Linked DNA regions of Homo sapiens. The protein of the gene in region 1 interacts with the protein of each later gene in a biochemical or structural test. Each region holds a gene or a part of one and is shown on either strand. Other genes may lie near its edges. The genes, in order: TAMALIN, GRM5, MAGIX, LIMK1, RPS6KA1, ARVCF and GOPC.

Evidence for each region.
Region 2: the proteins of TAMALIN (region 1) and GRM5 interact in a test that uses a peptide from one of them, tested with the Homo sapiens proteins (one large-scale study listed by IntAct).
Region 3: the proteins of TAMALIN (region 1) and MAGIX interact in a test that uses a peptide from one of them, tested with the Homo sapiens proteins (one large-scale study listed by IntAct).
Region 4: the proteins of TAMALIN (region 1) and LIMK1 interact in a test that uses a peptide from one of them, tested with the Homo sapiens proteins (one large-scale study listed by IntAct).
Region 5: the proteins of TAMALIN (region 1) and RPS6KA1 interact in a test that uses a peptide from one of them, tested with the Homo sapiens proteins (2 studies listed by BioGRID and IntAct).
Region 6: the proteins of TAMALIN (region 1) and ARVCF interact in a test that uses a peptide from one of them, tested with the Homo sapiens proteins (one large-scale study listed by IntAct).
Region 7: the proteins of TAMALIN (region 1) and GOPC interact in a test that uses a peptide from one of them, tested with the Homo sapiens proteins (one large-scale study listed by IntAct).

Annotation. Positions count from the first base shown.
Region 1 is NC_000012.12:52,005,559-52,009,745, forward strand, and holds the start of TAMALIN (protein TAMALIN), read left to right. Parts: upstream 1-1,387; 5' UTR 1,388-1,461; coding exon 1,462-1,707; exon of another isoform or gene 1,708-2,097; intron 2,098-2,263; exon of another isoform or gene 2,264-3,202; intron 3,203-3,631; coding exon 3,632-3,681; intron 3,682-4,187. UniProt on the Homo sapiens protein: Plays a role in intracellular trafficking and contributes to the macromolecular organization of group 1 metabotropic glutamate receptors (mGluRs) at synapses.
Region 2 is NC_000011.10:89,063,183-89,067,180, reverse strand, and holds the start of GRM5 (metabotropic glutamate receptor 5 isoform a precursor), read left to right. Parts: upstream 1-1,198; 5' UTR 1,199-1,405; intron 1,406-3,521; exon of another isoform or gene 3,522-3,700; intron 3,701-3,998. UniProt on the Homo sapiens protein: G-protein coupled receptor for glutamate. Ligand binding causes a conformation change that triggers signaling via guanine nucleotide-binding proteins (G proteins) and modulates the activity of down-stream effectors.
Region 3 is NC_000023.11:49,165,758-49,169,274, reverse strand, and holds the end of MAGIX (PDZ domain-containing protein MAGIX), read right to left. Parts: intron 3,202-3,517; coding exon 2,876-3,201; 3' UTR 501-2,875; downstream 1-500.
Region 4 is NC_000007.14:74,093,804-74,097,303, reverse strand, and holds part of LIMK1 (LIM domain kinase 1), read right to left. Parts: intron 683-3,500; coding exon 544-682; intron 225-543; coding exon 115-224; intron 1-114. UniProt on the Homo sapiens protein: Serine/threonine-protein kinase that plays an essential role in the regulation of actin filament dynamics. Acts downstream of several Rho family GTPase signal transduction pathways.
Region 5 is NC_000001.11:26,532,761-26,536,260, reverse strand, and holds part of RPS6KA1 (ribosomal protein S6 kinase alpha-1), read right to left. Parts: intron 1-3,500. UniProt on the Homo sapiens protein: Serine/threonine-protein kinase that acts downstream of ERK (MAPK1/ERK2 and MAPK3/ERK1) signaling and mediates mitogenic and stress-induced activation of the transcription factors CREB1, ETV1/ER81 and NR4A1/NUR77, regulates translation through RPS6 and EIF4B phosphorylation, and mediates cellular proliferation, survival, and differentiation by modulating mTOR signaling and repressing pro-apoptotic function of BAD and DAPK1.
Region 6 is NC_000022.11:19,975,324-19,978,823, forward strand, and holds part of ARVCF (splicing regulator ARVCF), read right to left. Parts: intron 2,753-3,500; coding exon 2,635-2,752; intron 2,264-2,634; coding exon 2,092-2,263; intron 1,401-2,091; coding exon 1,383-1,400; intron 1,355-1,382; coding exon of another isoform or gene 1,254-1,354; exon of another isoform or gene 1,245-1,253; intron 435-1,244; coding exon 363-434; intron 1-362. UniProt on the Homo sapiens protein: Contributes to the regulation of alternative splicing of pre-mRNAs.
Region 7 is NC_000006.12:117,592,512-117,596,011, reverse strand, and holds part of GOPC (Golgi-associated PDZ and coiled-coil motif-containing protein), read left to right. Parts: intron 1-3,500.

The DNA.
Region 1 (4,187 bases):
AGTGGTTAGATTGCAGGCTCTGGAACCAGGCTGCCTGGCTTTGAATCTCAGCTCTGCCGCTGAGTGACTTAGGGCAAATTACTTATCTTCTCTGGGCCTCAGTTTCCTCATCTGTAAGGGAGGATAATGGTGCTTATTTCGTAGGGTTGTTATGAAGACCAAGTGAGTTAATGCATGTATGTAAAAGGACACACAGAACAAACAGTGTGCATAGCACATGCTAAGTGCTCAATAAATGTTAACTGTGAAGGCATAACAGATTTGGGAAGACTGGGGGAGGAGGGAGGGGACAGACAAGGGCACCGCATTGCCGCCTCTGCTTCTTGGCCGATGGGTGTTGGGACATGGAGTCCCCAGCCTGTGCTGCTGACGCCCTGTGGTGGCTAGCCGCTCTTTAGACACCAGACGCTGCCTTCCACTTCCTCCTCTCACTTCTTATTCGGGCACCACTGACGACAGAGACTTCGGCTGGGCCATTCCCGCCTCTCCTACCGCCTGGCAGCCATGGTAACAGCCTGGGGGATGGTCCCTAAGATGGGGTCAGAGAACGGCTGAGCATGGCCATCCCCCCAGCCCTGAACTCCCACTCAGCCTGGGCTCATCCCAACCTCCTGAGTCAAGTCCACAGTAAGCGTCTGTCTCCTGGGAAGGGGGATCTGACCCCGGCATCAGGAGCTGAGGAAAGGTGTTGCCAGCAGGGATCACTCAAGCCCCTTGGAGGGGACAGGCCAGAACTAAGCCTACTGCTTTCAGGGTTTCCACCTCTTCCCTTCTTCCTAGACGTGCGAACAGGGGGCAGCCTCTTTCAGCTCTTCTGGGGCAGCTGCGTCAAGGGAAAATCCTGGGCCCTCTCCCTCCCTGGGGGCTTCTGCGCAGTGAGTTCAGGGAGTCTCCTCCCTCCTCCATCGGGCCTCCACCCCTACTCCTGCGCAGCCCCGCTGCCGCTCTCCCTGCCCTGGAGTCTCCTGCAGCCCCTTGGATCTCCGTGACTCTCCCTACCTCCCCGACTCCCCAGGCTTCTTACAGTGACCTCTTACCGTGCCCCACTCCATGAATCGCCAGAGCTATTCGTCCCTAAATTTCAAACCTTGCGCAATGTCCCTTCACAGACCCCTCCAGGTATCACGCAGCCCCGAGCCCCGAGCCCCGCCCCGGGGGCCTCATCCCGCCCCTTCGCGTCCGCGGCTCGTTTTCCCCCACTGAGCGCCCAGCTCCCGCAGTTTCCCCGGCCGTCGAGCGCCGTGGGCGGGGCTCCAGGGCGGCGGCGCCTCGCGGGGAGGGTCCTCCGTGCTGGGGGCGAGGCCACCCGAGGCAGCTCCCCGCCCGCCCCCAACCCCGCCCCGCTCTCGGAGCCTATAAAGGGAGGCGACCCGCGGCCCGCCCGGCTGGCATCCCCCAGCCGCCGCCAGCCCCGCCGAGGGGAGCCAGCGCCGTCTCTGAGGGGCGTCCGGCGCCGGAGCCATGACCCTCCGCCGACTCAGGAAGCTGCAGCAGAAGGAGGAGGCGGCGGCCACCCCGGACCCCGCCGCCCGGACTCCCGACTCGGAAGTCGCGCCCGCCGCTCCGGTCCCGACCCCGGGACCCCCTGCCGCAGCCGCCACCCCTGGGCCCCCAGCGGACGAGCTGTACGCGGCGCTGGAGGACTATCACCCTGCCGAGCTGTACCGCGCGCTCGCCGTGTCCGGGGGCACCCTGCCCCGCCGAAAGGTGCGTCCCCCGCCCGCCTTCAGGATCTGCTCAGCCCCTCTCCGACTCCCTACAGGGCCTGCTGACTCCGCAGTGCCCTCTCCTCGGCGTCCGCGGAGTCCCCCACCTTCTTCCCCGGCCCGCTGGGTGCCTCGACTCCCCGCGTTCCCCGCTGCTGCGAAGGCCGTGGCCCTCGCCTGCACACCGCGCCCAGGCTCGGTGGCTCTTAACTCCGCGCCCCATGCACGCCCCCTCTCTCCCTCCTTGACTCCTCCCAGCACCCCCCTTCTCCTACCCGCTCCATCTGGCTTTCTGCCCCCCATGCCCCGCCTCCCCGTGGCCAGGTGTCCTGGGTCCCCAGGAGCCCCTCGCCCGAGGGACAGAGACAGCCCCAGGCAAGTTGAAGGTCCGAGAGCCCCCGGTGGGAGAAGCGGGCCGGTGGCTGCGCCGCGTGCGTTCTCACTCTGAGGAAGTGCGTGGGGAGCCGCTGACTCCGGATAGCACACCCTTCCGAGGGGACTCCCCGATTCCTGGGCTGGGGGCCTGCCGCCTGGCCCCACGTCTGACGTACGGGGCGCGAGGGCCACTGCTCCCTGGACTTCTGTCGGAACCGGACGCAGTGGGAGGGGTCGCAGGGCGCCCGCGGGGCAGGAAGGATGCGGGCCGCGCCCACCTCTGAGTCCCCTCTGCCAGCCTCTTCCTCTGGCCCCAGGAGACCTGAGGCTCAGAACCTACACAACACCAGGTTAAGAAGAGGGGCCTGGTGGCCTTTCCTCACCCAGCCGCCCTCCTTCGCCCCGGCCCCCAGCTAGCCCCCACACAATGAACAGCTTGTTGAGAATTTGCATTTTATGAAAATCATGTTGAAAGACAAAGGGGTCTCTCTGTGCTGCCCAGTCCTTCCTCCCTGGCCGTTTGGGAACTGTCCCCACCCCTGAGGCCAATCTGGTTCTGAACCTTCTCTTCCTTGCCTTGGGCAGCTTTGGGGGAGGGTTAGCAAAGGCACAGAACAGAAAGGCCCTGGGCTGTGCAGGCTCCAAAGAAAAGGGCTGCTCTGGGACTGGACCTCCTCCCAGGACCAAAAAGTTAGGGAGGGTGAGAGACTACTTTAGTTTATCAAGGACCCTGAAGAGACAGGAACCTTCATCTCTCATCCTTCCTCCACACCCCCCACCACCACCCCTAAAGAACTCCCAGTCTCGGTCCTTTAGTGAGACTTGCTGACAAGTTTGACATCTAAGATGTTTTGTCCCAGAAAGCACAAAATATATGGCAATGGAGAGAGAGACCCAGGTATAGCTGGGCACAGCTGGTCACCTGCAGCTGGGATCCACAACTGGTCCTTGAAACGGCCTGTACCTTAGGAGACCTGGCACCTCTGACCCCACATTCTGGCTGGGATTGCCAGCCCTTCGGGACAGGGTCCCTGACCCCAGCCCTCCCAAGCCACTGTCTGTAGCTGAGAAATTAGATGGAGAGACCCAACTGGCAGAAGGTCCTCGGAGCACCTTGATAGGTGAGCCCAGGGGACACCTATCCTCTGAATCCCACTGGGGAAGAGCCCCTGCCTCAGCTTTGGGAGTCTGGATGGCCTGAGCCTCTACAGACATGGGCCCTAGGGGTGGAGACCATTTTAGAATAATGATCTCCCCACCTGCTGCCAGTGTGGAAACCAGCAAGGGCTTAGAGGTTCATGGATCTGGAACCCAGGAGGATGGTTGTGTCCCTGCAGTCCCAGGTATGAAGGTAAGGCCTGTAGAGAAAGTTGAGGAGTGGTGCCAGTAGTGGCACTTGGCAAATAGTTCCACCAGCACCAAAACAGGTGTGGATGTGGAGCTGGGAAGGGGCAGACAGGAAGTGGGTCGCTGTGTCCAGGGTAACCTCTCAGTGTCTGCTCAAGGACAGTCCCGCCTTACCTGCTCCTTCTGACCATCTTACTGCCCAGGGCTCAGGATTCCGCTGGAAGAATCTCAGCCAGAGTCCTGAACAGCAGCGGTGAGTCACCAACACCCAGCCCCTGCCATGGTCCAAAGGGGTGAGGTGCTGGGTTGGGGGGTGCCAGGACAGCATCTCAGCCTAGCGAGGGTAGTCATTCTCCTAGCCTTTAAACATGGCTCCCCCGCTGGGAGTGAGGGCAGGTGGGGGTGAGGGCTGTGTGAAGGGGGTGGCAGAGAAAGGAGGTAGGGACTTTTGAGTCATTAGGTGCTCTTCAACACACCCCCAGTCCCTGCCAGTTACCCCTCCCTGGGGAGATCTGGATGAACGGATGTGGGAGTTGGGAGGGGGTGTAGGCAAAGTCTATGGGGAACGTCCTAACCCAGGCCTCCTGGGCTCCCCTGAGCCCTCCTAGCCTTGGCAAACCCCACGGGCCCAGACCTTAGCCAGGCTGTGTCCAGCTGCTTGGGGCTGGCTGCCCCTGCCTCCAGAATGTCAGTCCTCTTCTGGTCCCAGCCTGTGGCAGCCCTCTTAGGAGGGATCTGAGCGTGGGCAGAAGTAGGTGC
Region 2 (3,998 bases), on another chromosome or scaffold:
ACTTAATCACATCACCAGAGTCATCTAGTCATGTCACCCTCCATTTTCTTGCGAACTCACTATTTTATGTATTTTCTCACCTATGCCATCTTTCTATTTTCTCATCTATGCCATCTTTCTTTCTTTCTTTTTTAATTAAGGAAGCTCACTCACAGCTTTCCTGGCCTCTCTCCAAAGTACTAAAACTTGTTTTGTGAATTGCAGTCAAAGAAATACAAAAAGTAACAATGATCCCATCAGTAGACGTGAAAATGCAAGAAGAAAGATGCCATTGTAAAACCCAACAAGGTGTGGTAGATACATCTCTTTTTCTTGTTGTTAAATCCTGAAGCTATCAAACAAAAACTTACCTTATTGACAAGGGTCTAGTGGAAAATCTAATGAGCATTAGTAATGAATGCACCAGCATCAATCCCCTTGTCTGTAGTGCACTCATCTTTTAATCTTTGACCCAGCTGCTGCAAGCACCTGGTTCCCAAAATTCAGCTAGGGAAATACAATGGGAATAATAATCATATTACTGCAATGTCTTTCTTTTCTTTAAATTAAGCTATGCAAGTAATTTATACCAATCGCCTTTTCAGAGGCAGAAATGAAGTCTGCTTTTGTACTTAAAGATAACCTCAGCATAGCTGACAATCCTGGGCAGTTATGGGGGTGGTGAAGGAAGGGAAGCAAAGTCATTTGAGAAAGTAAAGACATTCAACTGCCAACGAAGAATAAATTTTAACGGATGTAGGAAGAATCGTTTGTAAGAAGTGCAGAAAATGCAAAATGGTATTATTAATAAGTAACATCATTAGAGGCCGTTCTTTCTAACCAGTCACACCTCTGAATCATCTCGGGCTTCCCTGACTTCCTAGCTTTCTGTACCCTCCAGCAGTGACGCCCCTTCTCCCAATCATTGTCAGGGGTTTCAGTGCCATAGTCAAAAAGAACCTTATTATCTACCTGCTCCCCCAGCTTCTCTCTGAGTGACACACCACCCACGCCTCCTCCGCACAGCTTTCCTCCTCCCATGGCTCCCAGAGGGAACGTGAGGAGCAGGAGAGAGAGACCAAGGCTACCCTCGCCTGAACCCCGAAACGACGAGGCTTTAAGACCCTTATTCACCCACTGAGTCTATGCCCTGGCCGTTCTGCCAACCCCCGCCGCGCGCTGCGGGAGTATAAGCCAGCCCTGCGCTGCGCTTCCAGCTGCGTCTGCCCGAGCGCGGCACGTGCTCCCGGCGCTGGCGCGAGAGAGCGAGCGCCACCGCCGCGGGCCCCGCAGCCGTTCTGCCTGCTGTCACCGCTGCCTCCATCGCCGACACTAGCGCTCCAGCTGCAGCCAAGGCCGCTACGAGAGCGCAGGAAGCCCTCGAGGAGCGGCTGCCTGGGGGCGCAAGGCTCAGGGCGCGCACCTGGTAAGCACAGCGCCTTTTTCTTTCTCTTGGCTATAGTTACCACGGATATAGGATACCGCTGGAGCCCCTCCCCCAGTGCAGGGATGGAGAGCAATCAAGCAAGGGGCGGGAGCTGGGGCTAAAAAGACCCAGGAGGGCAAGTGGTGGGCAGGTGGAGGGCTGGTAGAGCCAGGAACGCTACGAGGTCCTGCAAGTTTAGAAAAGTCACCCTGCAAGGACGTGTGCTGTGTGAATCAGACATAAATTTAAGTCAGGAGCCTGGGCTACCGCGGTATCGCTCCAATGGGAGGTTTATGAAGATCATTTTGCTTTTATTTGCATAAGTGAGGGATTTAAGTGGGCTTGTTTCCATAGAAAACGAACTAAAAAAAAAAAACAGAGGAGGAAAAGATAAAGATCCGAGCCAAAGGATACGTTTGGATCTCTCTCTCTGTGTGTCTGTCTCTCTCTCTCTCCCTCTGTCTGTGTGTGTGTGTGTGTGTGTGTGTGATGCCAATACATGTGCACGAAAGGCAAGGATTTAGGAAGAGAGATGGGCTCCTCTATCTTTGAGCCCATTAGGTGTTTGAGGGAGCTAATGGCAGTTGCTGGTGCTTCACCCCAAAAAGAGGCAGCAAAGAAGGGACCCGACTGGGTGTAAATGTCAGTTTCCGTTTCTAAAAGGACTACAGTACTAGGAGGGAGAGGTTTTCTGGAACTGTGGGTCATGTAAAGATGGTACACCTGCAGCTCTGGACCTATAAACTCAAGTTCATATACTCCCAGTGGAGCTTGGAAGACATGTTTACTCTTGGTTCCTTTATGGAACTTTGGCAAAAATAATATCTCTCTCTCCCTCTCTCTCTCTCTCTCTCTCTCTCACACACACACACACACACACACACACAGAGAGAGAGAGAGAGAGAGAGAGAGAGAGAGAGAATATGAAAAATGAATACAGGGAAGAGAAGGGAGCTGAATATGCCTGAATAGGCTGAGTGGGGTAGTAGAAGGAACAAGAACAGGGTGATCGGGTTTGGCATCACTGCGTTCATTCAGTTCTACCCTAGGTAGTTCCTGGACAGATCTCTAGAGAAACATGACCTTGAACAAGCCCCTTAACCTTCATGTACTCAGTTTCTCTATTGAACAATGTAGAGGATCTTCTGCATTTGGGGACATGAAGGTCCCATGCAGTAGTGTCTATGTATGTGTTTGAAGATCTGCATACTAAGAAGTAAGAACACTCATAAAATATGGATAAAGGAAGCTTCAGGGGATTCTTCCTCAAAGTACTAAAGGCAGTTGGCAAGATCCTGACTGTGCTGTTGGGATAATGCATGCTGAGAGGTCTGTGGAAATGAGTGAGGAAAATCCAACCTCCAGCCTGTAGCTCAGTGAACTTGGAGTTCTGAGAGCTGTTTAGAAATGTTCAGATCCACAGAGCCTAAAGTCATATGCTATTTTTTTAGTGTTTTATTATTTATTTATTTTTATTATACTTTAAGTTCTAGGGTACAAACCTGCACGTTGTGAACAAGTCATATGCTATTTTTAAGGTTAGCATTGAGGAAGAAGGTTTGGTGGCAAGGAAAATAAGTGCCAATCCAGTTTAAAGATTAGGTAGTCAGGGCAGCAAGAAGAAGGTTTTAGAGTAAAACATAAATGCAATGTAATCTAGGCAGAGGGGTTAGGAAGAAGAAGATAATGGATATTCCCCCTGAGACAAGGATGTCTACACTCCTAGGAGACAACTGGGACCTACCATGTCCTTGACACTCCTTCCACCTGTCTGAGGAAGGCACAGGTGCCCTTTCTCACTCAATACAGGTTTATTCTTAGAATTTAGGGATTTGTATCCCAGGTGCTGAGATATGACGGTAAACATGTGAAAAGTAAGTCCTGGGAGTGCCTCCAGCTCCCTTGCCATGTGAGCATCTGTTGACAGAGCTGGTCTACCCATCCAGATTCACCCAGGAGTCTATGTTCCTAAAGGAACTCACTGTGCCACTTGGTGGCACCAAAAAGTTGCGCAAAGAACTCTGTTCTCTATAAATACAAACTACCACCCCTCCCTCCTCCGCTCTCTCCCCTTCCCCCCATCCCCCCTTTCTCAGTAGCGGGGAGATTGCTGCACACGCCGCCCTCAGCTCGGCTGTTCTGCGCACGCTGAGCGGAGGGAATGAGCTTGAGATCATCTTGGGGGGGAAGCCGGGGACTGGAGAGGCCGGCTCTGCCCTGCTGATCCCCGTGGCCCAACTTTTCGGGGGGCTAGCTAGACCGAGTCTCACTGCTCGCAGCGCAGCCAACAGGGGGGTAAGCTTGCTAAGTGTCTGTGTGCCCAAGTGTCCCCTGGCCAGAGAAGGATTTAGGATCTATAGGCTTGCTGAGTAGCTCATAGTGTGGTTTGGGGGAGGGGGACGCGGGTGGAGCAGGGGTGGCCAAAGCCGACAAGATTCAAGTCTGTTCCATTTGCGAACAGCCTTAATTAAACCTGTTGGGGAAAAAGGCGCGAGCAATGGGGTGAAGGAGGGAAGAGCTGCAAGGGTTGAAAAGGAGATTCTGCATGCCTTCGCATCCGAGTTCCCGCTCTCTAAGGCCAGGTGCGCGTGGT
Region 3 (3,517 bases), on another chromosome or scaffold:
GCTGTCAATGCCCTTCACTCAGTGCTTCATATACCTGGCTTCTGGTCATTCAGGTTGCAGCTCAAGAGTTATGTCTTCAAAGAGGCCAGAAGCTCACCATCATCTCCCACAATGTAACCTCCTTTTGCTAGCTTCATAGCTTCATGACTCTCACTTCTCTCTGAAATTGTCTTTTTTTTTTTTTTTTTTTTTTGAGAAGGAGTTTTGCTCTTGTTGCCCAGGCTGGAGTACAATGGCACAATCTTGGCTCACCGCAACCTCCACCTCCCGGGTTCAAGCGATTCTTCTGTCTCAGCCTCCTGAGTAGCTGAGATTACAGGCATGTGCCACCACACCAGGCTAATTTTGTATTTTTAGTAGAGATGGGGTTTCTCCATATTGGTCAGACTGGTCTCGAACTCCTGACCTCAGGTGATCCGCCTGCCTTGGCCTCCCAAAGTGTTGGGATTACAGATGTAAGCCACGAGCCTGGCCTTTTTTTTTTTTTTTTTTTTTTTTTTGAGATAAGGTCTCACTGTCACTCCAGCTAGAGTGGAATGGTGCAATCATGGCTCACTGCAGCCTTGACCTCCCAGGCTCAAGTGATCCTCCCACCTCAGTGTCCCAAGTAGTTGGGACTACAGGCATGAGCCACCACTCCCAGCTAATTTTTAAACTTTTTGTAGAGACAAGGTCTATGTTGCCCAGGCTGGTATCAAACTTGTAGGCTCAAACAATCCACCCGCCTCCGCCTCCCAAAGTACTGGGATTACAGGCACAAACCACCATGTCTGGCCTGAAGTTTTTTTTTTTTTTTTTTTTTTTTTTGAGACTGATTCTCGCTCTGTCACCCAGGCTGGAGTGCAGTGGTGCGATCTTGGCTCGCTGCAACCTCCACCTCCTGGGTTCAAGCAATTCTCTGCCTCAGCCTCCCGAGTAGCTGTGATTACAGGCACCTGCTACCACACCTGGCTAATTTTTGTATTTTCAGTAGAGACGGGGTTTCACCATCTTGGCCAGGCTGCTCTTGAACTCTTGACCTCGTGATCCACCAGCCTCGGCCTCCCAAAGTGCTGGGATTACAGGCGTGAGCCACCACGCCTGGCCTGGTTTTTTATTTATTCATTTTCTCGTCTTTTTTGTCTGACATCTGTCTACTCTCATTACATACATCAGCTACACAAAGAAATTTTATGTCTTGTTCCTCCAGCATCTCCACAGTACCTAGCACAGTGCAACATATACAGTTGGGGTTCAATTAATACTTGTCAATGCAGGTGAAATTGAGAGGACAGACTTGGGAATCAGGCCTTGATTAAATCGTGCTTTGACCCTCCTCTCTGTAGCTATCTGCACTCCCTGGGCCTCACTTTCCTCCTCTGCGAAATGGACATATTCGGATAGTTGAGTAGATGTGCAACTATTGTAGATGAAAATAAATATTGCAATAAAGCCAGTAGCAGGGATAAAACTAAGTACATGGTGGCTGGGGTTACTATTATTAGTCTCCTGGGTGTGACTGTATTTATAGACTGGGGCTCTTGAGCCCTTTGCTGACTTCTGAAGAACCACACCTCCACCAGGCTCTAAGTCAGGGGTAGCTGGAAGCCACCCTGGCACACTTCCCCACAATGTCTATCTACAGCTCTAACCACTCAAGTGTTCACCTCTTCACCCTCCAGCTCCCAGCTCTCGCAGCTTGTCTTCACCGTTCCTCTTTCCTCTCCAAGGCCACCTGGACTCTCGCATTCCGGTCCTTTAAATTCTTTCTTCCTTCCCCGTCCCCTCCCCACAGGGGCGAAAGTTGCCCATTCCGTCAGACCACAGCTTCCCTCCTGTGGGGGGATGGGGCCGAGTGCTCAGGATGTGGTGACAGCGGAGGTGACTGGACATTTCTGTCCTCTGCCAGCGCCTTCCTCGCGGCTACCCCGGTTGGAGTCCCGCTGGCCATATAAGCCCTGGCTGTAGGGCTCTGTTCCCAGGGTGAAGGAAACTCTGGGCCTCTCCCGTGCCGGGAACGCCCAGTGTGTGGCGTGTGCACACAAGCCCGGCTGCAGTTCTTCACCATGTACGGAAAATGGGGGCACGGCCCAAAGGTTCTAACAGCCTTTTTTAGCCCGGCCCGTCCAGGGGCGCTGACTCACACCTTCCCCACTCCGCCCCAAAGGGGGCTCCAGGACCCCAGCCGGTGCCCGGAGAGTGGTAGCCTACGTGCCAGCAAAAGCTGGCAGACTAGGCCGGAAGTGGGAGACCGCAGGCCTCTGGCGAAGGAAGCTGCCCTGCTTCTAGGCTTCTAGCCTTGCTATCCCGACGTCAGCTGAGGGTCTGTATGATTCCGAGACAGGACTGTGGATACACTGGTGCAGTCCTGCCACGACAGGCTCACCTCTGCATTCTCCATGCCATGCACAATAATTTATGTGTGAGACCCTGTACACCTCCAAAAAGGTGAAATTAATGAATAAGGAGAGGAGCAGGAGACGGCGAAGAGAAAAAGAAAGCACGCCAGACTGAGGACCGGCAGAAGCAAAGATAACATGTGCAAGCAGGAAAGCAGCAGCACGAAGCTCGTCAGCGATTACTCAAGCAGGATCGACCCACCTGCTCCTTTACAGAGTGGCCCGGGCAGCCCCACCCCGCCTCGAGCGCCTGGCAAGTCAAGACCGGATCGAACCATTTTATTACCTCCCCCTCCCAGAACCAGAAGCGCAGGCTAGCCGGCTGGAAGGGTCGTACCACTGACGCTGCGAGGGGAGTGTGGTCAGAGCCACTGAGCAGCGGGTGGGGGGACCAAACCAAGTGGAAGCTCTTGGGGAGGTGCCAAGTGCCCAGCGGCCACACGCGCCGGATCCAGGTTGGGCGGTAACTAGTGAGCCCCGCGCTGTCAGAGGTAGGCTCAGTGTCTCCGCCTTCCGGCTGCCATCTCCTGAGCGAGCTGCGCTGCCCCCCGGACCCCTAGGGCCCGCGAGAGCCGTTCCTCGCTGGGCACTAGCCAGGGCCCCGGGGAACCCGGGATCTGGTCGTTGGGATCCTCAGCGCGGCGCTCAGGAGGAGAAACCGTGGGGCCATCGGCGGCCGCCTCTGGACTAGGCTCCGGGCTGCCCCGGGTCTTCTTGAGCGTCGTCCGGGATGGAGGGTGCTGAACTAGGGAAGTGCTGCTGCTGCGAGACCCCGTTACCTCCGGCCCTCCAGGATCTGGGCTGCGATCTGGCCATGACGGGACTACGGATTAGATTGGGTGGTGAAGTAGGGAAGGGAAATCCAGGCCTTTGGCTGAGGATGGACAGGAGAACCCAAAGGCTGCGGGAGATGAGACCCTGACCCTTAGAGAAATCTCCCCTCCAGGCCTTCTGGGATCGGCACCACCCCTCACAACCCCGACACCTCCTTTCCCGAGACCCCTCCCCTCCTGGATCCAGAACATGCCCCTCAGAAATCATTTCCCACAATCTCCAAAGGAAATCAAACCCCGCTCATCTAGGAGCCCCTGCTCTCTCCTCTCTCATCCCACCTCCGTTGACTCCCAAACCACCGACCC
Region 4 (3,500 bases), on another chromosome or scaffold:
CAAACCTCACCCCATGGGAAAGGGCAGGAGGCCCGGGTGTGGGAGAGTCAGCACCCTTGCAGATCTGTGACACAGGTGGGCCTCCTAGGCTCAGGGAGGGGCCAAGGCACTCACCAGTACAGCTTGGAGTGCTCCACCAGCGTGTAGGTGTCCCCGTCACCGATAAAGGTCCCACACGTGAGGCAGATGAAACACTCGGGGTGGTACTTCAGCTCCCCAGCCACCTGGTGCGGGGGTGAGGAGGGAACAGCCCAGCTCAGCAGACCCAACAACCCCCACAGATCCTCCCCTAGGCCTCTTCCAAGGGTGTCACCAAAAAAACAACTGCAGGGACCCGGCTGGCCAGCTGCTGAGCTCCTGGACAGAGCTGGCTCCATAGATGGGGGCGCTGAGGGATACAGACAGACAGTCAGGCTCAGAAAGCAGCTCCAAAGACCAGCAAAAAGGAGACCAGGAGAGACAATGATGGGAGAGAGACCTGGAGCATGGGGTCTGCTTGGATACCCCCACCCCAGGTGAGTGTGCAAGGCAGGGGGCGCTCACCATAACCAGTCCCTTGGTGATTTGCTCAGAGCACCCATGGCAGGACTCGCCATAGCGGGCCCAGTAGTCCTTCTTGCAGAAGAGCTGCCCATCCTTCTCATAGTACTGGTGCGACAGGGAGGCACTGCAGTCACAACACCTGCAGGAGAGGGGCCGGGCTGAGACGTCCACTCCCGCCCTCCTCCACCTCACCTGGGCCCCTGCCTCGGCTACAGGCACCTTTGTAAGAATTAGAACAAGTTTTCTTTTTGTTTGTTTTTTGAGACGGAGTCTTGCTCTGTCGCCAGGCTGCAGTGCAGTGGCTCGATCTCGGCTCACTGCAACCTCTGCCTTCCAGGTTCAAGTGATCCTCCTGCCTCAGCCTCCTGAGTAGCTGGGACTACAGGCACACACCACCATGCCCAGCTAATTTTTTGTATTTTTAGTAGAGATGGGGTTTCACCATCTTGGCCAGGATGGTCTTGAGCTCTTGACCTCGTGATCCGCCCACCTCGGCCTCCCAAAGCGGTGGCTCACACCTGTAATCCCAGCACTTTGGGAGGCCGAGGTGGGCAGATCACTTGGGGTCAGGAGTCTGAGACCAGCCTGGCCAACATGGCAAAACCCAGTCTCCACTAAAAATACAAAAACTAGCCAGGCATGGTGGTGGGCACCTGTAATCCCAGCTACTCGGGAGGCTGAGGCAGAAGAATCGCTTGAACCTGGGAGGCAGAGGTTGCAGTGAGCCAAAATTGTGCCACTGCACTCCAGCCTGGCGACAGAGTGAGACTCTGTCTCCAAAAAAAAAAAAAAGAAAAAGAAAAATAGAGGAGAATCCCCAGGTGTGCAGGGTCATCAAAGCCACGGTTCGCCTGTTTCCTCACTAGAGGCTACCAAGGAGGCCTGGTTGGTGGGGCCTTGAAGGGCAGATGGGGAGGAATGCCAGGCTGTAGGTGCCACAACACAGGCCAGGGTTAGACCTACATTCCCGGCTTTTTCCCAGCCAAGCATCCCGGTGGGGTGGGGACCAGCAGCCCTGCCCAGCCAGGATGAACAAATATAGAAATGTCAGTCTGGGATGGGCATGGTGGCTCATGCCTGTAATCTCAGCACTTCAGGAGGCGAAGGTGGGAGGATCACTTGAGGCCAGAGGTTTGAGGCCAGCCTGGGCAACACAGTAAGACCCCATCTCTTAAAAAATTATTAAAAAATTAGCCAGGATACAGTGGGTCCTGTACTCCCAGCTACTAGGGAGGCTGGGGAGGGAGGATCGCTTGAGCCCAGGAGTTGAAGGCTGCAGTGTGCTATGATTACACCACTGCACTCCAGCTGGGTGACACAGCAAGACCCTCTCTCTAAAAAATAAAATAAACCAAATGCGGGTGCCCCAGTGAACCCGCAGGCACACATGTGCCCCCCTGGGTCCTGCTGTGGGGGGGCATGTCTGGGTCAGGGTACAGACCCACACAGAGAACAGGCTAGGGGGTCCGTCCCGCTCTGCCACTGTTTGGGTGCTATGTGTCGGTCACACAGGGACAGAAGAACCAGGCTCCAAAGGGCCACAATCTAGGAGAGAGGCAGGTAGGAAAGACTGGGACCTGGATGAGATGAGGGACCTTAAGGGCTGTTTCCTACCCAGGAAACTCTCCACAGCCTGGGGCCTGCATGGGTATCACTCATGGGCTGTCTGCTAATGCTAATTAACTGTAACTAGGGAACTGGGGTTGAGGAGGGGAGTTCAGCAGTAAGCTGGTGGGACACTGTCCCTTTAAGAGGATCCAGCCACTTCCCCTTTGTCTGGGAGCCTAGGGGAAGGGGTGGGAGTAAAGGGGGAGCAGAAAATGCCAGGGTTTGGAAGCATGTGGGTGAGGGGTGCATCCAGGAAGGGAGGCCTGGTGCATTCCTCCATGGGGGTGGGGAATGCGGAGGCTGGGCCACCGGAGGTGGTGGCGGTGGCAGGGGCGGCAGGAGACGCCACGTCAGGGTCACTGCCCCACTCGGTGCACAGCAGGGGGCCGGCAGTTCACCGGATCACCGCGGGGGTGGGGCGGAGGACGGAAGTTGGTGAGGGGGGTGGTCTACAGGGCACCTCCCGTCCCAGGGCTCTAACCTAATTCGAAAGGGAAAGGAGTGCTGCAGCCGGGAGGCCAGGCCGACTTTGGGTCCTGCCCTCGCAGAAGCCCCCACGCCTGGTGCAGACCAATGACTCGCTTCCTGCCCTTACACCGATCACACATGACCTCGGTCACAGGGGTGCCACATCACAGGAGTGCCCCTCACTCCTGCCTGCAGGAAGCAGGGCCCCCGCATACCTCTGCAGTGGGCGGTGGGTGGGTGGGGGATTAGGAATTGCTGTAACCAAGTGTCCCCATCCCGGGGAGGGAACGCTCTTCCACAACCTGGAAACTGCTACTGGTCCATTCACTCGCTCACGCAGAAACTCACAAACCTTCATCACTGTTGCTCACTTTCAGCAGCTGTGAAAGACCCGGCGGTGATGACTCACCCGAGGGTTTGAGTGCACTTGGCTTCCCTCCGGTCACCACTTCCTTGATGCCTGTTCTACCAGACACTAGGTCTGCCCACCAGTGTCTGCCACTGACCTGCCAGCTCCCCGCGGCCCCAGGCTGGGCATCCACAAAGCTTGGCCCAGGAGAGAGCATAAGTGATTCCTGCCGGCGAGGCCCCCGCTGTGCACCCAGCATCCTCAGAACTGCCCCGAGACCCCGTCTCTGCCTCCATTGCAGACAGGGCACCCAGGCCTGGCCCAGGCTGACTTGGTGGCTCAGTGGCTGGGGCTCGGGGCCTCAGTGAACCTTTGCGGATGGAGAGCACGCCGGAGTTCCTGTCCCTGCCCCTGCCCCGCCCCTCACCCCTCAGGCCTGCATTCTGGCAGGAGCTAGAGGCTGACGGGCCTGGCTCTCTTGAGTGCCCCACACAGAGTGCCTGACTGTCCCTAAGAAGGATGTCAAGGGAGG
Region 5 (3,500 bases), on another chromosome or scaffold:
GGCTTGGGGCTAACAGCTGCTCTCTTCCAAGCCTCTGCCACATGGCAGGCACTGGGCTCAGTGCCTCGCACCTGTGGCACCACTTTTTTTTTTTTTTTTTTTTTTTTTAGACAGAGTTTTGCTCTGTTGCTGAGGCTGGAGTGCAGTAGTGCAATCGCAGCTCACTGCAACCTCCGCCTCCCAGGTTCAAGCGATTCTCCTGCCTCAGCCTCCCAAGTAGCTGGGATTACAGGCGTACGCCACCATGCCCGGCTAATTTTTGTATTTTTTTTAGTAGACACGGGGTTTCACCACGTTGGCCAGGCTGGTCTCAAACTCCTGACCTCAGGTGATCCGCCCGCCTCGGCCTCCCAAAGTGCTGGGATTACAGGTGTGAGCCACTGCGCCTGGCCCCTGTGGCACCATTTAATCCTCATGACAGCCCTGGGAGGTAGGCCCTGGCCCCATGTGGCAGAGAAGGAAACTGAGGCTCTGAGGGGACCTAGTGATGATGCCTATGGTCACACAACTGGTGAGTGGGGATTCAAAATCTGGTCCCAAATCCAGGAGGTGCTCCAAACAGGTCAGCTGAGAAACAGCCCAGAGCCCAGAGCCCCCCTCTGGTCAGTCTTGCCTTTTCCAGCCCCCAGACTTCACTCTCAGGTGGTTATTAAATATGCTGGGGTGTGTCAAACCCAGCCCATCTGTTTCCTGTGTGATGTGAGGCAAGTAACCTACCCTATCTGGGCGTTTGGAAGCTGAAAGAAATTGCCCCACCCCTCCTAGAACAGGGAGAGTGTGGTGAGGCAGACAGGAGGTTCCCAACAGCTAGGAAGGCCTGCTCTAGAACAGGTCTGGATCTGGACTTTGGAGCCAGGAGCTGGGTCCATGGGGCAGCTGTAGCCCTGCTTGGCTACAGCTGGGTAGGCACAGCTGTGCTCTACCCATTACATAATCTCCCTGCCCCTGGAACAGCTCCCCATTGCCACTCCCAGGACATCCTGCCCCCTGAGCCCCTTTAATGCCCCTAATCTCTCCCCAGGGGCCAAATGTTCTACAGGCCCCTCCATGCACACATCCATACACACACTGTCATCTCTCAGCAGCCTGGGGAGAAGGGATGGGTTGGTCAGGGCCCAGGGGCTGGGCTGTGGTAGGGATGCTTTTGTAGACTGAGCTCCACTTCACCCAGCATTCTAGACTCTTGACATAATTCCTGCAGATGATCAGAACAGCCTACCCACCAGCTCCCTGCCCCACAGCCTTCCCCACTCCAAACCCTCATCATTCCTAAAATCAAGTGCAACTGCTGCACTCAACTCACTCAGTCAACATTTGCTGAGAACCTTCTATGTACCAGGCCCCAAACCCCTCTGTGGCTTCCACTGCCTGTAGAATCAAGTCCCAGCTCCTTAGCATAGAAATCAAGGCCATCATCTTCAACTGCCCAGCACAATAACTAGGAATGTAGGTTTTGCAACCTGACCTTGTGGGTTCAAATTCTGGCTTCTACCACCTGCGTGACCCCTAGAAGGTTAGTTCATTTACTGGGGCTTCAGTTTCCTCATCTGTGAAATGCGGATCAAAGTAACATACCTCAATGGTGGCGGCAAGAAGCAAATGAAATAATGCCTATAAATATATACACCTGACATGTAACTGGCCTACAAACAATAGCCATTCTTATCATTGGGCCCTATTTTTGAGCTAAACTGAACAACCACAGACCCTGAAAACAGTCTATTTTATATCCCCAGCATTTGTATGGTGGCTCCCTCTACCAAGAAAGCCTTTCCTGCCTTGTCACTTTGGCAAACTCCTGATCTTTTATCAGGACTGAATTCAAATGTCACCCCTGTCCACACAGCCTCATGTTCTTTCCTCCCTCCTCTCTACCCCCATAACCTAAGCATGCTGCAGGTTAACTCGGGAAGGGGCCATGGCTTGTCCATCATCAACATCTTGGCACCCAGCCAGAGTCCAGCATGTGGTTTATCCAGTGAAAGTTCAACCCAGCAAAGACAGCAAGGAGGCCAGAGCAGGTTCTATTACTCCTATTTTTCAGATGAGGCTCAGGAGAGTTAAGGGACTCACCGAGGTCCCTCAGCAGGCAGGTGGCAGACATGTGACCATAACCCAAAGTCACGTGGCTGCAAGCCTACTGAGGGTGGGGAGGAAGGGGTAGGTGTACCTAGAGGTGTGGGTTTCTTGAGCAGTGGCCTGGATGACTTAGGGACCCCCCGCTCTAAGGCAGTCTGGCTGCCTCTACTCCCTGGATCTCTGGCTTGGGTGTCATTCTTATGGAACGCCAAACCTGTAAGAGTAAGGGAACAGGCAGCCCTGGAGAACAGACTGGTAGGGGGGTCAGGGGGGTTGTGGGGTGCTGGCTTCCCACTCAGAGCCTGGGTCCTGGGTCCGGGGTCATCTGCCCCTCTGGCCTGACTGCTGCATAGCAATCCTTGAAAGAACACAGCTGTGCAGCCACAAAGATACAGCCACTAATCCTAGCTCTGCCAGCCACTTATTCTGCCCTTGGGTCTGTCATATCACTTTTTATTTTTATTTTTATTTATTTTTTGAGACAGTTTCACTCTTTTGCCCAGGCTGGAGTGCAGCGGCGCAATCTCAGCTCACTGCAACCTCTGCCCCGCTGGGTTCAAGCAATTCTTCTGCCTCAGCCTCCCAAGTAGCTGGGAATATAGGCCGCACCACCACACCTGGCTAATTTTTGTATTTTTAGTAGAGGCGGGGTTTCGCCATGTTGGCCCAGCTGGTCTCAAACTCCTGACCTCAGGTGATCCACCCGCCTCAGGCTCCCAAAGTGCTAGGATTACAGTCATGAGCCACCACGCGTGGCCTCATATCACTTTTTGAAGTCTCAGTTTCGGCCAGGCGCAGTGGCTCATGTCTGTAATCCCAGCACTTTGGGAGGCTGAGGCCAAGAGGCCTCACAGATCACGAGGATCACGAGGTCAAGAGATCGAGACCATCCTGGTCAACATGGTGAAAACCTGACTCTACTAAAAATACAAAAATTAGCTGGGCATGGTGACACGGGCCTGTAGTCCCAGCTACTCAGGAGGCTGAAGCAGGAGAATCACTTGAACCCGGGAGGTGGAGGTTGCAGTGAGCCGAGATCACGCCACTGCACTCCAGCCTGGTGACAGAGCAAGACTATGTCTCAAAAAATAATAATAGTAATAAAGTCTCAGTTTCCTCATCTGTATCACGAGGGCAGGTGTGTCTTGCTGACATCTGCACTTTGTTGTCTGAAATAGTACTTATCACCTAAGTGCTAAATAAATGACTGAATGGGGACAATGGTGCTGACCTTGCAGAGTACTGAATGAAGGACTTTGTCTTAGGAGTCCTTTGGCCTCTTAGAGGTTGAAGACCCACACTCCTCCCTCTTCCTCAGAGAGCACTGCTCATGAGGACAGATGCCCAGGGCCCCAGACCACTGCCCCCAGTTCTGAGATGTCAGAAATGGGTTCCAACTGGCATCATTCCTTCCCACCCAA
Region 6 (3,500 bases), on another chromosome or scaffold:
TCCCAGCCCCCTCAGATAACTCAGCTTTGTGGCTAACACAGGAGGCCCTGCCTCCACTGGAGGCGTCCCTCCAAACCTTCCCACCTCTTACGCACCGTGAGGCCGAGCAAGCCCTCGGCCTCTCTGTGCCTGTCTCCCCCAACCTTGCCTGACATGACCCATGGCACTTCCTCCCATTCTAAACCCTCAGCAGGTGTCCTGGTGCTGAATCACCCTCCAGGAAATCCTGCACCTAGGGGCCTGTTTCCCCATCTGTTCCCTGAGGCCCTCCAGGCCTGCTTGATGGCTCAAAGCTTCACTACCAGGGCAATCCTGAGCCCAGACATCCCCCAGTGGAGCTGGCTTCATCTCAGCCCACTCACCTTTGGCGGCCTCAGTTCGCTTGGGCAGGTCTAGCGTGTCAAAGTTCCGGTCCATCTCACCATCCTTCTTTCCTGGAAGGGAAAGGTGGTGGGAGGTGAGGCAGACCCCATATGGGGAATGGGTGTATCAGGAGAGTTGGGCACAGTTCTCTCCTACCCAGGCCCCAAAAGGCACCCCCATGTCCAGGCCTGGGCACCTGTGGGAGTGGAGCACCGTTGTCAGAGTTTGGGCAGACAGTTTAGCCTAGGGGTAGGAGTTGGTGGCAGTGGGGCCTGGGGATGTCCCAGCCCTGCCCCTAGGACTCATCTCCCACCAGGTGCTGGGAGCTGTACCACAGACCCTCCCGGTGGCTCCCTTGCAACTGCCAGGTATGTAGACTGAGGGAAGCCAGGAGCCCTGGCTGGATGGTAGGTGGATACAAGCCAAGAAACTGAAGGCTGACCAGGACAAGACTCACTTGGGTCACACAGTAAGGCAGAACTAGGGGGAAACTCCCCCAGCTGGGGTCAGGACATTGTCCCAGGATCTACTAGCCAGGAGAAACCCCACAGCAGCCCACCTAACATTTGTGTAGCCCTGGCTTGCACACGTCTGTGACAGTGAGCCCACTGTCAACCACTCTCCCCATGTCAGATGATGCTTCTACCCCTTCAGAAGGCAGCAGAGTGGAGCCAGATGACCTGGGGTCCCTGCCCTGCTCACCCTCATGGGACCCTTGTATCCCTCCGAGCCACATGATGCCCCATTCTATCAGAGAAACAGACTGCTCCTTGGTGCCCCTAGAGATAAGTACCCCCGGGCCCTGCCCACTCTTGGCTCTGCCCAACTCTGCCCAGGTAGGCAAGTCTGAGGTTACAGAATGAGCCCCGTGGCCTTCCCACCTGCCACTGTCATAAAGATGGCAGCCCGAGTGATGAAGCCAGGGGTGGGGCAGGGCCCTGGGGCTGGAACGTGCTCGCCTCTTCCCAGGTACCCACTGCACACGCCAGGCCTGGAGAGCAGGATAAAAAGGGACTCACCTTGGTGGAACCACTCCTCTGGGAGGCCGGAGGAAGCAGAGGAGAGAGGAGAGGAGCCTGAACAGGCAGCACTCATCACCCCCCCATGCCCTCCCGGAAGCCTCAGGTTCCCACTGCACACCCTGGATCAAGCAGGCAGCATGTGGAACCTCATCCCATCACTTCTGGGCACTGAGCACCCACCAGGGGTACAAGAAGAGGGAGGCCTGGGGTCAGTGGGGCAGGGGCAGGTGGCGTACAGGTCCCCCACAGCTGCTGGGGAGGTCCTGGGAACCTACACCCTGCTAGTGCAGTAGAGAAGGTGTGCAGGGCATCTTGCCCAGGCAGATGGGGGGCTGCCCCACAGGTTGGTGGCAGTCTACAGCTATTCTGTGAACAGTGAGCAGGCAGCAGCCATGGCTCCTTCCCAACTCATGGGCAAGTGGAACTCTCCCCGGAGTAGAAAGACTGGGTCTGGGCATTGGTTGGTTTCCCTTGTGTACTCCCTGGGGGTCCCACAGTGTAGATGGGGAAGGTTGGACCTGGGTCCCATCAACCATGTGACCCAGGGCAGTCCAGCCTCCTTGACTCCTGGCTTCCCTGCCTGCCTGTTGGGGGCTGACCAGGTGTCCTCTAGCCTCCATGATGGGCTGCTGTGGGTGTACAGAGAGCCTTCCGCTGGGGCAGGAGTTGAGATGGTAGAGATGATACCCCAGTCCGCCCCACCCACCTTTGGCCTTCTTGCCTCCAAAGCAGCTGGCATCATCCCGCCTCCGGCGCTGGGAGCCTACAGCACTGCCCAGGGGCCCGGGCTCGGCCTCCTGGTACCTGTCGGCCCCGGGCACCTCCTTGTGCACGTGGTAGGACAGGTTCCGCATGATGCACACGCAGTTCTCCACCGACTGCAGGGAGAGGTGAGTGGGTGGGGCAGGGCACCCTAGGCACAGGGCTGGCCCTCAGGAAAGACTGGCCACAGCTGGTGTGCATGAGGGCACCGGGAGCAAAGGAACAGGGAGTCCTCAGTGGAGGGGAGCAAAAGGGCGGTAACCGCCAGGAAGGGTCCATGGGAGGAAGCCTCTGCCCTCACGGCACACCTTCTGCCTGCAGGACGGTGCCCACTTCAGTGTGGTCACTGCGAGGCGGGCCACACCCAGAACGCCACCCCAGACCCACAAGCCCATTCCCCTGTGCTGCTCCCACAGTTCCAGCCTCCTGGGACCTGCATGATCGTCTCTCCAGCCCTTGGTATGAGGCTGTGACCGTCCCTGCCCACCTTGTTGTCAGTGTCCTTCCGGCCCACAGCCGACTGCAGGGCATGCAGGAGCGCGTCCACCAGCCCTTCACACTCCCGGAGTCGCCGCCGGGCCTCAGCACCATCGGAGCTCACATTCCTGTGTGGCCAAGAGCAGGCCAGGTGACCCCTGGCTACCAGAAACTCCCTGGCTCCACCCTGGCCTTGTGGGCTTGTCTTCATCTGCAAAATAGGCCCTGCTGCTGCCCTCCTAGCACTAATGGGAAAGGACCCCACAGTCTGGAGCTCAGTGAAGGGGGAGAAGCTAACTGCCCCCAGGCCTCAGGAGGGGAGCCCTGGCAGACAACTATCTTGGCTGGGGATAGCTGGGCAGGGAAAGACAGGGTTTCCCTGCCTCCCAGCTGACCTGGAAAGGGACAGGTGCACTCTCAGAGAGACCTGAACCTGTGCAAGGGCAATTCTGGGTCCCTCGCCACCCCAATGGCAGCTCTGGGCCCCACCTTACCCCAAGGTCAAGAGCCTGCAGGGCTGCGCGGGAACACCCTGATGGACAAGCAGGACTGTGGGGACCCAGGACTCTGTGGGGTCAGCAGGGCCTCCCAGGGGTAGGAGGGGAAGGGCAGAGGTCACAGGTGGCTGGGATGAGCCTCCCAGGCAGATGAACAGGAAGGTCCCAGCTCCCCCTCTGGCTGTCAAGTGATGGGAAGGTAGGTGAGAGCTGGGCAGGGCTACGGTACCACAGAGACCCCTCCAGAGGGTGCCCCTGGGAAGACTGGGACACCACTTGGGGGTGAGGACAGCTCCATCAGGCCCCACTTCTCATCCACAGGACTTGTGCCACAGCTCTGAAGCTCCTAAGCTCTGGCGCTCCTAAGCTCGCCGCCATC
Region 7 (3,500 bases), on another chromosome or scaffold:
TGGGAATGTAAACCACCAACCACTATGAAAAACAGTGTGGAGATTCCTCAAAGAACTAAAAGTAGATCTACCATTTGATCCAGCAACCCCACTCCTGGGTATTTACCCAGAGGAAAAGAAGTCATTATATGAAAAAGATACTTGCAAACATGTTTATACTAGCACAACTCATAATTGCAAAAATATGGAACCAGCCCAAATACCCATCAATCAATAAGTGGATTAAAAAAATGTGGTGTGTATATATACAGACACCTGGAATATTACTCAGCCATAAAAAGGAATGAAATAGTGGCACTTGCAGCAACCTGGGTGGAATTGATTGGAGACCATTATCTAAATGAAGTAACTCAGGAGTGGAAAACAAAATGTATGTTCTCACTCATACATGGGAGCTAAGCTAGGAGGATGCAAAGGCATATGAATGATACAATGGACTTTGGGGATCTGGAGTAAAGGGTGGGAAGGGGATGAGGGATAAAAGATGACACATTGGATACAGTGTACACTGCTCAGGTGATGGGTGCACCAGAATCTCAGAAATCACCACTAAATAACTTATTCACATAACCAAACCCCACCTGTTCCCCAGAAACCTATTGAAAAAACAAAACAAAACCCAAACAAACAAAACAAAACACAACTGAGTTCCTTTCCATTGTGAGGCCTAGAGAGGCATTGGAATGAAACCGCAGTTATGGCACTCCCTTTTGACCTAAGCAGTTATCTCTGGAAGCCACCTTCTATGTAGGATTTAGACTAACTGACGCCAAGTAGCCATAAAATACCATATGCTGGACACCATAAGTCATACCTTATAGTGCAACAATGAATAGCCAGTCACTAATCAGTGATTGTAAACCAATGAGAATTCTTATCAAGCAACTTTGTATCTGCCTTGTTCCTTTTTCCCTTTAAAATCTGCTTGTAACTCAGGTGCCAGAGCACTCCCCAGGCATCTGGGAAATATGTGTTGAGTAGCTGTCCTCATTTTGGCTCAGGTAAACTAAAGTATATTTTGTGCCTCAGCCTTTTCCTTTTAGGTTTACAGTAGGAATAGTAATACTAGCAGTAGTAGGTGTGTTGGAATAGAATAAAGATTGTGAACCAATACTTTAAAAAATTCACCTCTGCCTTGAAAGAGTGTTCTGCCTGTTACTCCTTTTTTAAAGTAACAGCACAACAATACACCTTCTTTCACATCCTCCTTTCCCTCAGCAATTGCTCTGTTAGTATCTCTTTGAAGTGATTTATTATTCATAGCCAACAGTAGAGAAACTTTTAACTTTGATCTAGAGCCACATTGATAATGAACTGGTGATATGCTTGTCCCTTTGCTGCTTTAAATCTGTCCTGTTTTTAAATAGGCTGTTTTGCAACATTGAAGCTTAAGTTTAATATTGATCCAGTACGCACTTATGAACACGAATTATGTGCCAGATGCTGTATTGGGCACTTAGGATACAATGGAGAGCAAAAAAGGGATGTAGTCATGGCTTTTATGGAGTTTGGATTATATTGGAGGAATTTGTTGGGAGAATAATCATGTAAATGAGAAATTGCAACTTTGATGAATACTATGAAAGGTACATAAGAGTAAATGAGACCCTATTTTGGGATGTCAGAGAAGGCTTCCCTGAGGAAGTTATTGAGCTAAGACATAAAGGAATTATGTGTAAATAGGAATGAATTAAGCTAAGAGAAATAGGAATGCCATTCAACATTGCCGTAGAGGGAATGGGAAGTGAAAAGCACCTGTGGTGGGCAAGCGCATAGTGCATTTGAAGATTCGAGAGATAGTTGGTATGTGTAACAAGAGAAGAGGGCAAAAGAAGCAAGGCACAAGATAAGTTTGAACAGACAGAGAGGGACTATTTCTACATGACTTTATGGCCATGCAAAAATATTTGGGGCTTTATCATAATCGTGGGAAGTCTTTTAAACCAGTTCGTAGCCTCAGATATGAAGTTAGAATAGTTCACTCTGACTATGGTATGGAGAAAATTGCAGAGAATGACATGAATGAATGCAGAAAATTGTTTAGAAGGTTTCTGTTTATGTGAGATTATGATAGTGTGGAGTAAGATAATAGAGGTAGGAGAAGGTATTCAGAACAAGAGAAACTGGAGAGGTAAAAATAAAAAAAACCTAGAGATGGATTGGAACAGAGGGATGAGGGAGTTCAGGATAAATCCAAGTGACAATCTTGTGCAGCTGGTTGCCTGAATAGATAGATGAATGTGTTATATTATTAGCAATAACAATATTGCCAACTTTATTGATCAGTTACCATGGGCCAACCTCTCTTCTGAGTCTTTTACATAGACTGATTCATCCAATTCTCACAACAGTCCTGGAAACAGGTTTATTAGTATAGTTACTCCAACTTTACAGGGATTAAGTAAGAGGCCTGAGGCTACGGAGCTAGAGAAATCAGTCTCTGCACAAACACATTATGTCTGATGGGGGATGGAGGAGGTGGAGAGAGAAGCAGACAGAAAGAGTGAGTGTGGCTGAATAGATAGCAAGAAGTGAGATTGTAGGGTACAAGGGAGGTTTTGTTTTCATTTTGTTTTTAAATAAAAACAAATAAAACATAAGTCTGTGAGAAGCATCTACTTGAGAGAAAAGCCAAATATAGAAAAAGAGTGGGGTAGTTAATATTAGTAAGATTTTGTAATAACAGCTACTTAGAAGAGGGAGAGAATGGGAGCAGACAGTAGGAGGTTGTGGAAGTTTCTGTCTGATGGCTTTTTTTTTTCTGTAAAATAGGAGCCCACGTCAGTTGCTAAAAGTAGGTGAGAGTAAGAGCATGAGGCTAGTAGAAGAGGTTTGAGATAGTAATGGAAGAGTGGGAGAGCCAATTGGCCAGAGAAACAGGACTGCCAGGCATTGTTGAGGAATGGCTTGGGGTTAGTTATCATAAATTATGGTGCAACCGGTCTGTACTGTTGTGTGATTTTCTCTAGCAATGCATATCTGTTTAGGTACAGGCACAGTAATGAGAGTAATAACTAGGTTTATTCAATGTTATAGCAAAGGAGTTTGTTATACAGACAAGTGTGTTATTGAAGTGAAAGTGGTAATGGGGCTGATGAAAAGGAGATAAATTGAAGACTAAGGAAGGAGAATTGACAGGATTTGATAATTATGTAGATGCAGGAGATAAGAGAAAGGGTTAAGGATAACACTGCATTTCTGTTTGGGAAATGATTGATCAGTATCTGTAGTGGGTTGAATCGTATCCCTCCAAAATTCATATCCACCCCCAAAACCTCAGAATGTGACCTTATTTAGAAAGAGGGTCTTTGCAGGTGTAATTATGTAAAGATGGAGGTAAGATTATAGTGGATTAGAGGGGGCCCTAAATCCAATGAAAGTGTGCTGATAGGAGACAGAAAAGGCCACACACAGACACAGAGAAGAAGGCTATGTGATGATAGAAGCAGAGATTGGAGTGATGTATCTACAAGCCAAGGGATGCCAGTGATTGCCAACAG